Linked DNA regions of Homo sapiens: region 1 is linked to region 2. The links come from fine-mapping of genetic effects on gene expression. Tissue or cell type: lung. Region 2 holds a variant in brackets; the other region holds the start of a gene. All regions are shown on one strand. Distances are from middle to middle.

Region 1 (8,098 bases), 46 kb before region 2:
GGAAGGTGGACATGGCTTAACCGAGTAAAAGATGGAGGTGTAAACTTTGCATAAAGATAATGACAATAAAGACCCATTGTCATTGGCACTGTTAGAAGTTCTTCATACATATTATCTCAATAAATCCTCAAAACACCCTTTGAGGTAGGTACTATCATTATTTCCATTTTACAAATAAAGGAAGTATGGTACAGAGATGTTAAGTAACTTGCCCAAGATCACACAGCTTTTTAGGTGGGGAATGTGATTTGAACCCAGTGAGTCTGGCTCTAGTCAGGGTTAGAGATAAGCCTGGGTACCAGTTGGAGTCCCACCACATTTGCTAGGTGATCTCACGCAGGCTATTCAACTTTTCTGAGCTGAAGTTTCCTCATCTATAAAATGGGAATAGCAATTCCTAGCCCACAGGTTTATGAGGAGTATGTAACAGGATTGTGTTTGTGAAGTGACTGGCACACTGTCCTCAGCATGGCAGGCATCTATCATCAATGGAATAGGACATTAAAACATATTTTTTCTAAGATACCACCTTTTGACTACCTTCCCCATCTGCCTCACTAACCCATAAAGCATCACTATTGGAGAATGCAGCTATACGAGGTAGGACTGGGGGCTGCCAACCCTCCCTTTGCTCCACCCTGCTATGTCCCTAGAAGTAATAAAATGTCAACAGGTAAAGACATGGGAATAACAGCCTTCCAGGTCAGTTCAACAACATTTGTTGATTTTTTTTTTTTTTTTTTTGAGAAGGAATCTCACTCTTATCACCCAGGCTGGAGTGCAGTGGCGCGATCTCAGCTCACTGCAACCTCCACCTCCCGGGTTCCAGCGATTCTCCTGCCCCAGCCTCCTGAGTAGTTGGGATTACAGGCACCCACCACCACGCCTGGCTAAATTTTATATTTTTAGTAGAGATGGCGTTTCACCATGTTGGCCAGGCTAGTCTCAAACTCCTGACCTCAGGTGATCCACCTGCCTCAGCCTCCCAAAGTGCTGAGATTACAGGTGTGAGCCACCGCGTTGGGCCCATTTGTTGATTTGTTGATGTAAATGTACCGTGTACCAAGAACCTTATTAGACACTGTGGCACTAAACTCCTAAGACACAGCCCTGCCATCAAGGAGCTCACAGTCCTAGACAGGAGAAGAAAACACAAAAAATCAAACACCCAGTATGTAATCTGGGTAATGTGTTATACAAAACAGTGCAGGAAAGGCAGTAGCTAAGTGTCTAAGCAATGAAACACACAGCCATGGTACATACATCATGTACACTGCACACACCATTAGGCTACATGGGGTCCTGACCAGTCTGTGCTGTGCCTTGTGAAATTCTCTGAGTATCTATCTGTCTCTATGTCTTCAGCCTGAAGCTATAACATTGATATTTTGCTTTTGGTGATTCTCAAATGCTCAGCTATGATAGGGCTTACAATCACAGAGTCTTTACAAAGTTCAAGCCCCCATCTGATTTGAAGGTAACTGTTCTGGACATAGCCTAGCAAGTTCTTTATCTTGAGGGGTCCAGCATTACAAAACTTCCCAGTAGAAACCATGTTTAAATAAGTGTCAGCTGAGCATGGTGGCTCATGCCTGTACTCCTAGTAGTTTGGGAGGCCAAGGCGGGAGGATCACTTGAGGCCAGAGTTTGAGACCAGCCCGAGCAACATAGCAAGACCCCATCTCTCCAAAAAAAAAATGTTTTAATCAACCAGGCATGGTGGTGCACGCCTGTTGTCTTAGCTGCTCAGGAGGCTGAGGCAGGAGAATCACTTGAGCTCAAGAGTTCAAGGCTGCAGTGAGCCATGATTGCACCGGTACACTCTAGCCTGGGTGATAGAGCAAGACTCTGTTTCAAAAAAAAAAAAGAAGTCTCAAATTAGATTTTTTTATGGTAAGAGAAATCTGAAATAGTCAATCACACTTCAGAAGAAGCCTGCATTAAGATATGATAGCAACAATTCTGTTTGTTTGTTTTAAGGAACAGAAAGCGGAAGGACTAGAGACAAACACTGAGGCTTCCTAAGATTAGTTATTAGACAAAAAGACAAGGACAAAAATAATTGTAATTTCCTATTTGTGCTTGAATTTTAGAAGTTAAAGAAACTTTCACCAACTTTGAGCCACTCAACCCTTTATAGTAGTCAGCTATCGACACAATAATGCTGTGTAACAGTAAATCACAAAAATCTCAGTGGCATCAACAAGACACATTTATTTCTTGCTAACACATCTGTGAGGTCAACGGGAGTGTCTGCTCCATGTGTCACATCCTGGGACACACGGATGTCACTCAAACCACTCCAGGAGCAGTGGCTACACAGGGTATGCTCTTTTCATGGAGCAGGTGAACACACAAAACATCAAGACCAACCAGGCAAGTACATACATCAGATCCTCTGCTCACATCACATCCATCAGCATCCCCTTGGCTAAAGCCAGTCATATGGCCAAGCCCATTGTCAAGAATTAGAAAAATACACATCACCAAAAAGTGTGGGCACATGACGCTACTGGAAAGGAGGGAAGAATGGGTACTAATAATTCAATCTACCACAGCTTTTAAACCATCCTGAAAGGTAGGCATTATTGGCTCCATTTTTTCTTGACAGTTAAGTAAATGGGGCCCTAAGAGTTTAAGTCATTCATCCAAGGGAGGACAGGTAGTATGCTGCTCCAGCAGAATTAGAATTCAAAACTTCTACCTTCTGGCCCTCTGTGGTCTCTACAGGTATGTAGCCAGCTTACTAATACATAACTAACCCACATTGTTCATAATCACATCCCAGGCGGGCATGGTGGCTCACGCCTGTAATCCCAACACTTTGGGAGGCCAAGGAAGGAGGATCACTTGAGCCCAGGAGTTTAAGACTAGCCTGGGCAAGATAGCAAAACCCTATCTCTACAAAAAATATAAAAAATTAGCCTGGTGCAGTGGTGAGTGCCTGTAGTCTCAGCTACTGGAGACTGGGGCCGAGGTGGGAGGATGGCTTGAGCTGGGGAGGCTGAGGCTACAGTGAGCCATGATCACTCACTCTAGCCTGAGTGACACAATGAGACCCTGTCTCAAAAATAATAATAATAATAATCACATCCCTTAATTATGCAGATACCAATTCCCTCCAACAGAGACCAGACCCAACACTGCCTCATTTGTTAGCACCATCACAGTGTTTAACATTTGTTTGGGACTTCTTCAATGTTTTTACAAGCTTTTTTTTTACTATTACTACACTAATAAATTATTTACGGTGGGAAATCTAAATCAGAAAGCTCTGGCTTCTTGAAAACAAACTTTATTAAAAACGTCTTCCCAGTCCAACATGTAGCCTCATAGGGCACACACAATTTCTTTGCCTGAGCCTTAAAGATTACACCGAGTCAGTGGACTAGATGATATTGATGGCTGCAGAGAAAGAAGAATGGAAGAATGAAGTTTGAAGCTAATGCTTGAGTATGGGATTTTTACTCTGCTGCTGCTGTCCTGTGCAAACTAATTGCCAAATAGACCAGGCTGTAAAGCATCATAACTAGAGGTGATGAAGGGCAAGAAGCCACCCTCATGCCAGCAGCCTCCCGTATCCATTCACTTATTCACACAAATAGTTGTTGAAGGCCTGCACTGGGCCTGGCAGGGTGCAGGGGCTGAAATGCCTCCGGAACAAGACAGACCAGCTCTCATGGAGTTCCCACTGCAGACAGGGGTAGATTGTTGTAACAACAGCAAAAAGTAAAAGCAAACAGGGTAGTTTCAGATTGTACTGTAGCATTGGCCCTGGGTACATCATTTAACCCGTCTCTTAGAGGGTTCGGGTAGGATAGGGGCGCTGTTCTTTTTCTCCACTCCCAACCTGCGGGAGCCAGATACCTCCCAGGGCTTCCTCTCCTTCCCCTCCTTTGCTGCCCCAGGGGCAGGTCTGAAGGAGGACTGGTTAGTGACAGCTAAGGGGCCCGGAGGGCTGGGAGGCTGTCCCTCCTCCCCGCTCCAACCCCCGCGCGCTAGGGCGGGGTTGGGGCAGTGAGCGAGGTCAGGAGGCTGCGCCCCCTACTCCCCGCCCGGCGGGCGCGGTGCCGGCCCCAGCTCTGCGGACGGCCCGGGAGGCTGATCTGGCTGCGGAGGTCGATCCTGATAGCTCGGGGGCAGGAGGGGGGCTGGCCCTGCTCCTCACGCCCACCCCGCAGGGACCCAGACGCCCCTCCGGCCCCCTCCCTGCACCCCGTCAGCCCGGGAGCTGCAGGAGACCGGGGCGCATCTTTCCAAGCGCCGGGCCTCGCTCTGGGACAACGGTGTCCTGGGGGCGGGGAGGGCGCGCGGAGGTGCCAGGGGCGGCGGGGTACCCGGCCCGGCAGCACCGCTTCAAGTTTCCACCGGCGCGGTTGTGCAACCGGGAGGGGAGCGTGAGCCGCAGGCGCCTCGGAAAACAAGCCGAGCCCATAAACAAAGCCACGTGGCCTCCGGGCCGGGGGGCCGGGCTAAGAGCGGGCGGCTCTTCCGGCAACAAAGAGCTGCGGCCGGCTGCGGGGATAAATACTGCGGCAGCTACTGCCGCGCAGCACTCCCGGAGCCTGCAACGCTTGAGATCCTCTCCGCGCCCGCCACCCCGCAGGGTGCCCCGCGCCGTTCCCGCCGCCCCGCCGCCCCCGTCGCGGGCCCCTGCACCCCGAGCATCCGCCCCGGGTGGCACGTCCCCGAGCCCACCAGGCCGGCCCCGTCTCCCCATCCGTCTAGTCCGCTCGCGGTGCCATGCCATTCCTCGGGCAGGACTGGCGGTCCCCCGGGCAGAACTGGGTGAAGACGGCCGACGGCTGGAAGCGCTTCCTGGATGAGAAGAGCGGCAGTTTCGTGAGCGACCTCAGCAGGTGAGGGGACCCGCTACCAACTTCCAGCCCCCGCGAAACTGACCCGGGCTGGTCTGGGGGGCGCAGGGACGGCGAATGAGGGGCAGGCAGGGCTGGAGCGGGCTGAGGAGGGAGACCCTGACCCGGAGGGTGGGACTACGGGGCCCGATTTCTGCAGAGGTCTTCGGACCACCGGAGACAGGGAATTCGGTTTCTCTTATTGTTCAAGGTCAGTGTCTCCAAGTGGACACGACTCCTTACAGAACACCTGGTCCCTCTGAGAGTCTGATGACATTCGCGGATCGTGTCCCCAAACGTTCGCTCAAACTTAATCACACAGCTTTAGTGGTCCCTGCTTTAAGGACACCGGAGTCGCGCACTTTGCCCATGTGGGGGCGCGGGCGGGTGGGCTGAGCCCCTTCACCGCGGGGTGGCCCGGCTCCCAGCGCCCAAGCGCTGTGGACGCGACAGGTGACGGGATCCGACGAAGGTCCCGCCTGGAGCGCTTCCAGGCCCTGCCCAGGCACGGGCAACCACGAAGTGGCCGGGAGGATGAGTAACCAGGAAGGGACGGCCAGATGGTCCCTGGGGCAGCCGCTTACTGGGCGGACTTGCGAGCGGTGGAGGCTTGGGGCTGCAGAGGTGCAAAGGAGGGAAGGGGGCAGGGGATGAATCCCACAAGAGCTCTGCTTCTGGGAGGACAGGGCTCTTGCACCTGTTTCCTCGGTGGCCCTCTCGGTCGGTCTGCTTTGTATAGAGTGCACTCCGTTTCCAGGGGTGCCTGTCAGCTGCGAAAAGCCTGCCTGGCCCCGGTGAGCCTCTGGATTCGAGGCCTCACCTGAGCTCTGTGGTCTGGCGGGAAACCTGAGGTCCGCTGCGCTCCCTGCTCAGCTTGGCTAACGATGCCAGCGCCGGCTAGTACGCAAGGTAGCCTGGAATTTCTCAGCCCCTGACCTCGACAGTTGACTTTCAGAGACTCTCAGCATTTAGCCCGGTGAGCGGGGGCGATGAAAGTGATTCCAGAATGGACTGGTGCAGCCAGAGTCACCCTTGGGAGCCTTTTCCTGCCACCTTTGGTTAAAACCATGGGCCCCTGCACCCTTAAATTGACTTCAATGGAGAATTCTGTTTCTGGGCCAGGTTCCCGCTTACTGAGATTTACCAGTCGTTGCTTGGATGAAGCATTGGCAATAAATTTTGAGAAAACTATCAAGAAAATGTGGTTATTTTGGCAACTTGAACTCCCGTGCCTCCCATTTGTTTGTGATTTGTAATGCATCAAATTCCCATTGTCTCACAATGTAAAGAAAGACATTATTTAATTCTGGGGGTCTGTCCGGAGAGACTTGAGCGTATTAACCACCAGCATATAACCATTTACGTTGGAGTTACTTGGAGGCTGTCCCAGGGGAGTTTAGGGACCACCATAAGGAAATCTTATTTACGTAAAATCAAGTAATTTATTTACGGGAAAGTAAGACCAACTGCTATTGACAGACTATGTCTTTTATCGACTGGAGTTACCAATTATGCCTAAATTATTCTCCCTCAACAAAATGGGAACCTTCCTTCCTTCCTCCTTGTTCCTAAGGACAATGATCTAATATGTTGGTACTTTATTTCTGTATACAAGTTCAGGTTCTTTCTAGAAAAGTGCCGAAAGGGTCTGAAGAGTCATGTTAGAGCTGCTCACCCAAATATAATTGCAGGATGCTCCTCAGTGGAGAACAGATGATTGAGTTCAGCAGAAGATTTAAAATGTAGGGTCGTATTAATACTTACCCTACTCGGGAGGCTGAGGTGGGAGGATGGCTTGTGCTCAGAAGTTCAAGGCTGCAGCGAGTCATGACTGTGCCACTGCGCTCCAGCCTGGGCCACAGAGCGAGACCCTGTCTCTAAAAATAAATAAAAATTTAAAATTTGTTTTAAAATACCCTATACCGGCATCAGGAGAGAAACTGGTGTCACTCTCCTTTAGAAATAGTGGTATCTCTGTCTTCACAGTATGGAAGACCTGAAGATGGTCTTAACTTACCACAAAAGTTTAGACTGGGCTGGAATCAGGTGGTTTCCTGCACAGCCCCCCTCCCGTGTCCTGTTCATGAGCCTCTTTTTCTTCCCATTTCACACCTGAGCTGGAGCTGTCACATCCATCATCATTACCGCAAATAGTCATTGATATACTGACCACCTGTGGTCCTTTGAGTCAGCGTTTAGGAATCATTTGGTAGCCTCCTAGCAAAGCAGCTGGCTGTTTGTTTGCAGGGTATTTTTTTTTCCAGCAACTGTAAACAATCCCTTCCCTGCTTAGCATGAGAAGCCTGCAACTTCTTAAAAGCAGTTGGCCTTCTGTGGTCTGGGTTTGTCATCTCAAATATCCTCACTGTTTTTGGTCTTGGTGATGTTTCCCCGTGATGTCAGGTTTGGACTGCGTGCCTGCCTGCACAGGTGAAGCTGAATGCCTCTCCTGTTATGAGAAAACAAAAGGCAGGCCCTTAAGCGGGGAGGGACCGTGAAACAGAGAACTACAGAGACATGGTAGACTGACTTCTCTAATTCCACAGACCATTCTGCAAACGGCCCAAACAAGAGCCCGGGATGAAGGATGCATTTGGTGGTTTTCAGCCTGGGGTTATTGTTTCGTGTTGACCAAGTCTTGTCCACACAGCACACCTATTCTGGACTCAGCTGGCCATCTTCTCTGTGGTCTAGGACTCCAACCTTCTCCAGTGTAGAATGTTACAAATCCAGTCCCAGCCATGTGTCCAGGAGTGAGATCATGGGAGGATTTAAGATAAGCTTAAAGCAGGACCCCTTCTCAAAAATGTTGAAATTATATAAAATAGAAGGGGAATGGCAAGTGTTAAATATGCTGGGGCAGATTTAAAATGCAAGGAAAGAGCTTGGCGTGAATTGGGATGATCCAAGAATGCTTCAAGGAAGTGGTGGTTCAGGCACCCGCACAGCCTTCCTCAGCAACCACCCCCTCACCGCCCACCCCCAGGATGAGTAACCTAAGCTGTCTGAGCCTCTGCCACTCTTTTCTAAGCCTACACTTCTGTCATTGAAGACTGACTCAAATGTTACTTTACTGTATGGCTGAGGCTGGACCCGGAAGCAGGAAGTTTACCTTGGTGACTGGATAAAAATAATAGTTAAGATTTTATGAGTGCTTACTGTGTGCAAGGCACTGTTCTATGAGCGTTATACACTAGGCTGTTTGTTTCACCAGAGCATTCCGGGTGCTAGCCTTGTGAGTG
Region 2 (8,105 bases):
AGAATATGTGAAGTTCAGGAGTGCTCACACTAGAGCAAGATCCAGAAAAAAAAAAATCCAATGGCATTTTAAACTAGATTGCATTATCACTCAATGCTGTTACTTTGAGCAGACAAATCAGTTGAATGGGAGGGCAAATGGCAGAAATGAACAAAAGCTATTAGGTGAAAGCATCCCCAATGTATCAGTTGTGAGATGATTTTTGTTTAATGATGATCAGGTTTACATTGAAGTGGCTTGGAAGACGTATTTCAGAGGGACTGGGTTTGTACTGCAAAACTCTGAACACTAGAGCAGGTTCTACTAGCACTTGGGCAGTAAGGTAGCGGGTGTGTATTATGCTATTGCCATAGTTCTCGTCTTTGTGGATTCACATACCCTTTCCCATGAGGAGCTTGCTACTAACAGCCTCCTGTTTCTGTTGTTTTTATATGGGAGAAGAGAAAGAGCTTGGAATTTCAATTGTCTAAACAATTGGTATGATTTACAAGAAGGCAAACCATTCAGGAGATGTTCAACAGTGTATCATTCTTAGCATTCAATACAATGTTTATTATAAAATATACACCTGAGTTTATGTTTTTCTGCCAGGCTGAAGGGCAATAATGTCTTGCTATGCAAACACTCTATTTTATGTGTGAATTTTTTTAACTGTAATTTTATGTGTGAATTTTTTTAACTAAACTCTATCATCATTTTCTATGTTGACATCTTTTTTTTTTTTTTAATCTGTTTCCAACTCTGAGTCTGTGAACTATCTCTTCTGACTGGATGCTGGCCTAAAATCCTATTAGTGCTTAAACAGACCTCAAAACACTCTGAACCTGTAGGCCAATACAGAGATGTTGTTCTTTGATATATCTTGGGTCCTTGATGGCTTCAACAAACAAGGTCATAATTTGTTTAAATTCAGTGTTTTCTGTAGATACCTTCTTCTCAGTTTCATTAAGAAGAGTAACCATCTTTGGTTTTCCAAAGAATGGAAACTCCTACCCTAGACTTTAGACTTAGAGCGTCTGCCTTTCACGATGAGTAAGAGATCCAGAATGTTTAGGGGATGTGCGTCAGCCCACCTGGTACAGTGGCAAAGCTGAATGCGAACTTGAGGCCTCCTGAGGCCTGACCTTCTATGCCCCCAGCCCTCCACCCCAAGCACCTTTTGGTGTGGCTGGAAACACATGACATTGGATGTGATTTTTCTCAAGCCCTTCACTGTGGAAGGCATGGGAGACTGCCCAGCATTGGGCATGTGGCTGTTAACGTTTCCATTTCAAGTCCCTGATTCTTACTGGAGAAGTTAAGGAGCCACTTAATGTTTTCACAGACCTCTGATTCTGTTGTGAATGTGGCATTCCAGTGAGTACAACCTGCTTGCTATAAAGAAAGCAGCATATTTTGACAATTTTATTTCTTCCTTGGGTACTTACATTTTTATTACAAAAATGGCCGTTATAAAAAAAGACAGAAGGGCTGGGCAGTGGCTTGCTCCCTAGAAACTGAGATTCCGAAGCAGGTGTTTCCTCTCCCCTAGACTCAGAGGTACATTTAATCCATCTTCTCCATTTCCTCCTTCAGGACCAGCTATGAGATTCAGTGCATTTCTAGCCCAGCGGATGTTCATTCTCCACTAAACTTCATCTTTTACTAAGCAAAGGGGGATTATTCCATGAGGCAGCCAGGAGCAAGGGGCCATGATATTCATGACTTTGTCTGCTGGGCATTTTTCAAAGTGTCCTTGAATTCACTCAGCAAACAAAGCTTTCTGGAGAATCTCTCAAAACTTAGGCCCTGCTCCATTTGGCCAAAAATGATGGCTGCTCCAAAACTCTGAACTTCTTAAAACTCCATCTGCTACATTATTTCTGGAGTTTAAACATGACTTTTTCTGTCTTTGAGTATAGATGTGTTTGTTTAATTAACGAAGCACAAGTCTGTTAAGCAGAAGGCTCCAAGCTGTATTCTATACTTGGGAATCCTTGGTGCCATCTTTATTCTACCAAGTGCCAATCACCATGGCTAAAGTGGGCGTATATTACAGCCTGTGTCCTAAGCTTAGAAGCTTTAATGTACTTTTTTAAATGAAAAGTATTAGAGGGGGTTGAACATTGTAACTAAAGCATAAAGTTAGACCAATTACATGCAGAGATGTTTATTTAATATTGTGTGAGCTGAGTCCTTCTGTATAAATTATTTGCACACTTTTCTTGCATGATGAACTGATTTTTTATAGTTGTTTGTACCAGACGGTGGCATATTTTTGTAAAAAACTTTTGACACTGAATTGCAATAAATGTTTTTCCAACAACACACACTGGTGCATTTTTAGTATGTCCCAATTCAAGTTGGCTTTTTATCATACCAAATATGTTTATCTTTTGCCTATTTAGACTTATATTCCTTCTCCCAGAAACTTGTTACCATTTTTGTAAAATTTCTAGGAATCCATAGAAAAATAAGCTTGTTGCTGAATACCAACCTGAGTCCGTAATACAGCATTATGCTTAAATTGAATGTTTTCATATACTGTTTGCACAGCAGAATGATTAAGGAATAATGAATTTTGAAGTCAACATCAATTTATTCATCAACAGGCATTCATGGAACAGCTACTATATGCTAGACCTGTGCAAGGCACTGGGAATAGGGTAGTGAACAAGACAGAAATTGTCCCTGCCTTTTGTGTGTGGTTTTGTTTTGTTTTGTTTTTTGGTGACAAGGATGGGATCGTCCTTGCCTTAATGAAATTTAGATTTTAGTAAGAAAGAGGGCCCAGGTACAGTGGCTCACACCTGTAATCCCAACATTTTGGGAGGCCGAGGCGGGTGGCTCACTTGAGGTCAGGAGCTCAAGACCAGCCTGGTCAATATGGTAAAGCCCCGTCTCTACTAAAAATACAAAAATTACCTGGGTGTGGTGGCAGGTGCCTGTAGTCTTAGCTAATCAGGAGGCTGAGGCAGGAGAATCTCTTGAACCTGGGAGGCGGAGGTTGCAATGAGCCGACATAGTGCAATGCATTCCAGCCTGGGTGACAGAGGAAGACTCTGTCTCAAAAAAAAAAAAAAAAAAAAAAAAGCCGGGGGA[G/C]AGCCGGGCGCGGTGGCTCATGCCTGTAATCCCAGCACTTTGGGAGGCTGAGGCAGGTGGATCACGAGGTCAGGAGATCGAGACCATCCTGGCTAACACGGTGAAACCCCATCTCTAAAAATGCAAAAAAAGTTAGCCAGGCGTGGTGGTGGGCACCTGTAGTCCCAGCTACTCAGGAAGCTGAGGCAGGGGAATGGAATGAACCTGGGACGTGGAGCTTGCAGTGAGCCGAGATCGTGCCACTGGACTCCAGCCTGGGCGACAGAGCGAGACTCCGTCTCAAAAATAAATAATTAAAAATAAAAATAAAAAATATTTTTAAAGGGGGGGTGGGGGAGAAAGCAAGTAAAAAAAGTTATTTGTAATAACCAATATGAGGGGAATGAACAAAGGGTTGAGATCTAGAATAACAAGTGGGACCCAGTTAAGACAGTGAGGACCGAAGCAGCAGGGGCCTCTCTGAAGAAGTGATGTTGAAGAAGCCAGCCCCAGAGGAATGAGGGCAAGAGCATTCTGAAAAGAGAAACAGCTTGTACAAGGTTCAAATCATGGTCCTGCCACTTACCTGCAGAGTGGCCTTTGTCACCTCACTTCAGCCCTCTGTGTCTCAATTTCCTCGACTCTAAGAATACCTATCTCTTATGGCTCAGAGGGTTAAGTGAACTAACACATATGAACTGCTTGGAGACAGGCAGTGTTAATGATTATTGTTATTTCCTGAGCAACAAGAGTCTAAGAATCGGGTTCAGAATTGCACTGTGTTTCCAGGAGGGTATGATTTATTCAGGTGACTGACTTGCGGGAGATTGGCTTACCTGATACTTTCACTCTGGGACGCCCTCCGATCTGACCACTAACTGTCAATCAGAAAATGACAGAAGGTACATGAGAGTAATTAGAGATCATTTTTTTAAACCTCCACCAGGATCACAAAATCTCACCATTCCCTAAATATGACAAGCCTTCTCTGCTCAGGTAATGTGCCTCCTTAGAATGTTCTTCCCCTACCATCTATCATCTGTCTGATTAGCACCTTTGGGCCACTTCCTCACTAAAGCCTCATCCAGCTGAGTGAATCCCATTTCCCATCACACTTCTTTGCCTAGGGACTTTGTTACATCGTAGTCTTACTTGTGGCAATTGCATAGTACCTAGCACAGTGCCAGGGCTGAATGAATTAATAGGACCATATATACCAGGGGTCCCCAACCCCCAGACCATGGACCAGCACTGGCCCATGGCCTGTTAGGAACCGGGCCACACAGCAGGAGGTGAGCAGCAGGCAAGTGAGTGTCACCACCTGAGCTCCACCTCCCGTCAGATCAGCGGTGGCATTAGTCTCATAGGAGCACAAACCCTGTTGTGAACTGCGCAGGTGAGGCATCTAGGTTGTGTGCTCCTTGTGAAAATCTAATGCCTGATGATCTGACATAGAACAGTTTCATTCCAGAACCATCCCCCCCGCACCCGCCCAGTCCACAGAAACCAGTCCCTGGTACCAAAAAGGTTGGGGACCACGATATATACATTCAAAAAATGCTTTTGAAAGTCTTAGGACCATATACCCACACTTAACTAGAACAAAAATTGGCATGAGTTTATGTCATAGACAGAATTATTTACAGCTTTTTGATTTAAAATTAATGTCTGTTGATAAAGTAACAAATACAGAGACCCAGTTTTCATTAAAGTTGCCTTTAAATTCCACTAACAAATCTTGATATTTACAAGCCTAGTAAATTTTAATACAAAATAATAGGATCTTTTATTACTCTTAATAAACTCAAATTTAATAGATCACAGTCCCACTAAAAAGTAATTCTCTTTTACAAACTTAATAAAAAAATCCTTTAAACATTTTAAAGCTGCAATTATAAATCTGATACATTTGATTTTTAAGCACTTCAATTATAAATTGAATGCATTTGCTTTTTAAAAAAACACTGCAGGCTGAGCGCAGTGGCTCACGCCTGTAATCCCAGCACTCTGGGAGGCCGAGGCGGGCGGATCATGAGATCAAGAGATCGAGACCAACCTGGCCAACATGGTGAAACCCCCCTCTCTACTAAAAATAGAAAAATTAGCTGGGTGTGGTGGTGCACACCTGTAGTCCCAGCTACTCGGGAAGCTGAGGCAGGAGAATCACTTGAACCTGGGAGGCAGAGGTTGCAGTGAGCTGAGATCGTGTCACTGCACTCTAGACTGGGGACAGAGTGAGACTTTGTCCCAAAAACAAAACAAAACAAAAAGAAAAAACACTGCAAATACTTGCTCAGATAAGCTTACAGCCTTAATAAGCAAAACATTCTCAAGTAAATAAGTTACAAATTTCACAAATTAAGCATAAATGTATTTTATCTCAAACTCTCTTAGAAACTCTAACATTGTTAAACAAGTGAAACTATCACATCTTTCCATTTAAAATCATATCTTACACTAATCACTTATGTTAAATGGAAATCATAAGGCCACCATGGTAGGCAAAATAATAGCTCTCTAAAGATGTCCACATCCTAATTCCTGGAACCTATGAATATGTTGCTTCATGTTAAAGGTAAAATTGCAGATGTGATTAAATTAAGCACCTCTAGATGTAGGGGTTATCCAGGACCATCTGGGTGAGCCCAGTGTAACTTCTTTTTTTTTTGAGACCGAGTCTCACCCTGTGGCCAGGCTGGAGTGCAGTGGCGTGATCTCGGCTCACTGCAACCTCCACGTCCCAGGTTCAAGTGATTCTCCTGCCTCAGCCTCCCGAGTAGCTGGGACTACAAGCACACGCCACCACGCCCAGCTAATTTTTGTATTTTCAGTAGAGACGGGGTTTCACCATGTTGGCCAGGATGGTCTCGATCTCCTGACCTTATGCTTTGCCCTCCTCATGGCCTTAAGTGCTGGGATTACAGGCGTGAGCCACCACGCCCAGCCTTTTTTTTTTTTTTTTTGAGATGGAGTTTTACTCTTGTCATCCAGGCTGGAGTGCAATGGCGCAATCTCAGCTCACTGCAACCTCTGCCTCCTGTGTTCAAGCAATTCCCCTGCCTCAGCCTCCCCAGTAGCTGGGATTACAGATGCCTGCCACCACCCCCGGCTAATTTTTGTATTTTTAGTAGAGACAGGGTTTCGTCATGTTGGCCAGGCTGGTGTCGAACTCCTGACCTCAGGTGATCCACCCATCTTGGCCTCCCGAAGTGCTAGGATTACAGGCATGAGCCAGCGCACCCAGCCCCAGTGTAACATTTATGGCAGAGTCTTTAAAAGTACAAGAGGAATGCAGCGGAGGTCAAACTGATGCAACACAAGGACTCCACTGGCCCTTGCTGACTTTGAAGGTGGAGGAGGAGACCACCAGCCAAGGTATGAGAGCAGTGCCTATAATCGGGAAAAGGCAAGGAAAGAGATTCTCCCCTAGAGCTCCCAGAAGGGAACAGTCTTGATGACATCTTGACATCAGTCCACCAAAACCTATGTCAGATCTGACCTGCTGAACTATAAAAATAACAAATTTGTGTTGTTTTAAGCCACTGAAGGTGTGATTTGTTGCAGTAGTAATAGGAAACGAATACAGTTAAGCTGGCAGCTTCTCTAGTACGTCTAGCAGCCCACCCCTACAAAAGCTTTTCCCTGCCAGTTCTGCCCCCACCCCAGACAAATTCCCACTGTCCCTAATGCTGCATAGCCCTCAGCCCAAGCTGGGCAAGGATCTGTCTGAAAATAAAAGGCACAACCATCTTCACAGCCTAATTCAGAAGCAAGACTTATTTTGACCGCCAGATACGTGGCAGTGCAAAAGCTAGACAAGCGGTGTCAGCCTCTGTCCATGGTAGGTGTAAAGTTTTCTCCTTCCTGTTTTACATAGGCTTAAATTGAGGCTGACACCAATCACGTTTCTGCCCAAGAAACATCACAGAGAATCAGTGTTGCAAATTGTCTCCACTGAGCAATGTTTATGAAGCAGCAGTGTCGTGGGCACTGGAGCAGCCAGGCAGAAGTGTGAGCTTAGCCCTTGCCCTCAGGGAACTTACCTGCTGGTGGAGGAGTGGGAGGGGCTGGAAAATGTGTTATCAATTACAATACAGGAGCCAAAGTTTTAAATGCCCAGAGTCAGTTACAAGGTACTAGAGGAGTTCAGATAGGAAGAAGAACTGAGTTCACGTTTTTGAGAAGGAGAACAATGTGGGATGAAGCATGAGCTCCTTTGTTGGAAGCCAGAAATGGCACTAGGGATCAAGGGCCAGAGACCAATACTTAACACTTACCAACCAAAGTCCATTCTGTGCATTGATAGATTTCTTGGGAGGGGAAAAAAACTACTCTAAAGTTTGGACAGAGTTCCCTTTTAGAGAGAATTAAAGCTGTGTCCCCTGGGGTCTCAGTACCAGAGCTTTCCCAGTGTTCCAGAAAACTAACAGAAGCTCAAATGAACCTCAGCTCCCTTCAAGTGGTTCTATGATGGTTAATTTTATGTGTCAACTTGGCTAGGCCATGGTACCCAGTCATTTGGTCAAGCATCAGTCTAGTTGTTGCTGTGAAGGTATTTTTTAGGTGTGATTAACATTTACATCAGTAGACCGTGGGTAAGGCCTTCCATAATGTGGGTATACCTCATCCAATCAGCTGAAGGCCTTGAGAGAACAGAGTGACATCTCCTGAAGAAGGAATTCTGCCTTTAGACTGCCTTTGGACTCAAGATGGCAACATCAACTCTTCCCTGGGTCTCCAGCCTGCCAGCCTACCCTGGAGATTTTGGACCTGCCACCCTCACAGTTGCATAAGTCAATTTCTTTTTTTTCTTTCTTTCTTCTTTTTTTTTTTTTGAGACAGAGTCTCACTCTGTCGCCCAGACTGGAGTGTAGTGGCACAATCTCGGCTCACTGCAAGCTCCACCTCCCAGGTTCAAGCAATTCTCCTGCCTCAGCCTCCCGAGTAGCTGGGACTACAGGTGCCCGCAACCATGCCCTGCTAATTTTTTGTATTTTTAGTAGAGACGAGGTTTCATGGTGTTAGCCAGGATGGTCTCTATCTCC

The links. PIP is the estimated chance that this variant, and not a neighbour inherited with it, causes the effect.
Region 1: FBXO32 starts here. The variant in region 2 is fine-mapped to the expression of FBXO32 in lung (TOPMed, PIP above 0.99).

Annotation. Positions count from the first base shown.
Region 1 is chr8:123,537,660-123,545,757 of GRCh38, reverse strand. FBXO32 (F-box protein 32) reads left to right here and starts at 4,552. Exons shown (of 9, transcript NM_058229.4): 1 at 4,552-4,859. The coding sequence starts at 4,744. RefSeq lists silencers at 4,026-4,315, 4,406-4,515, 4,566-4,655.
Region 2 is chr8:123,492,091-123,500,195 of GRCh38, reverse strand. FBXO32 (F-box protein 32) reads left to right here. Exons shown (of 9, transcript NM_058229.4): 9 at 1-2,307. Among named protein-coding and RNA genes, the nearest start is that of FBXO32, 45 kb to the left of the region's middle. The variant G/C (reference allele first, on the strand shown) is at 3,082.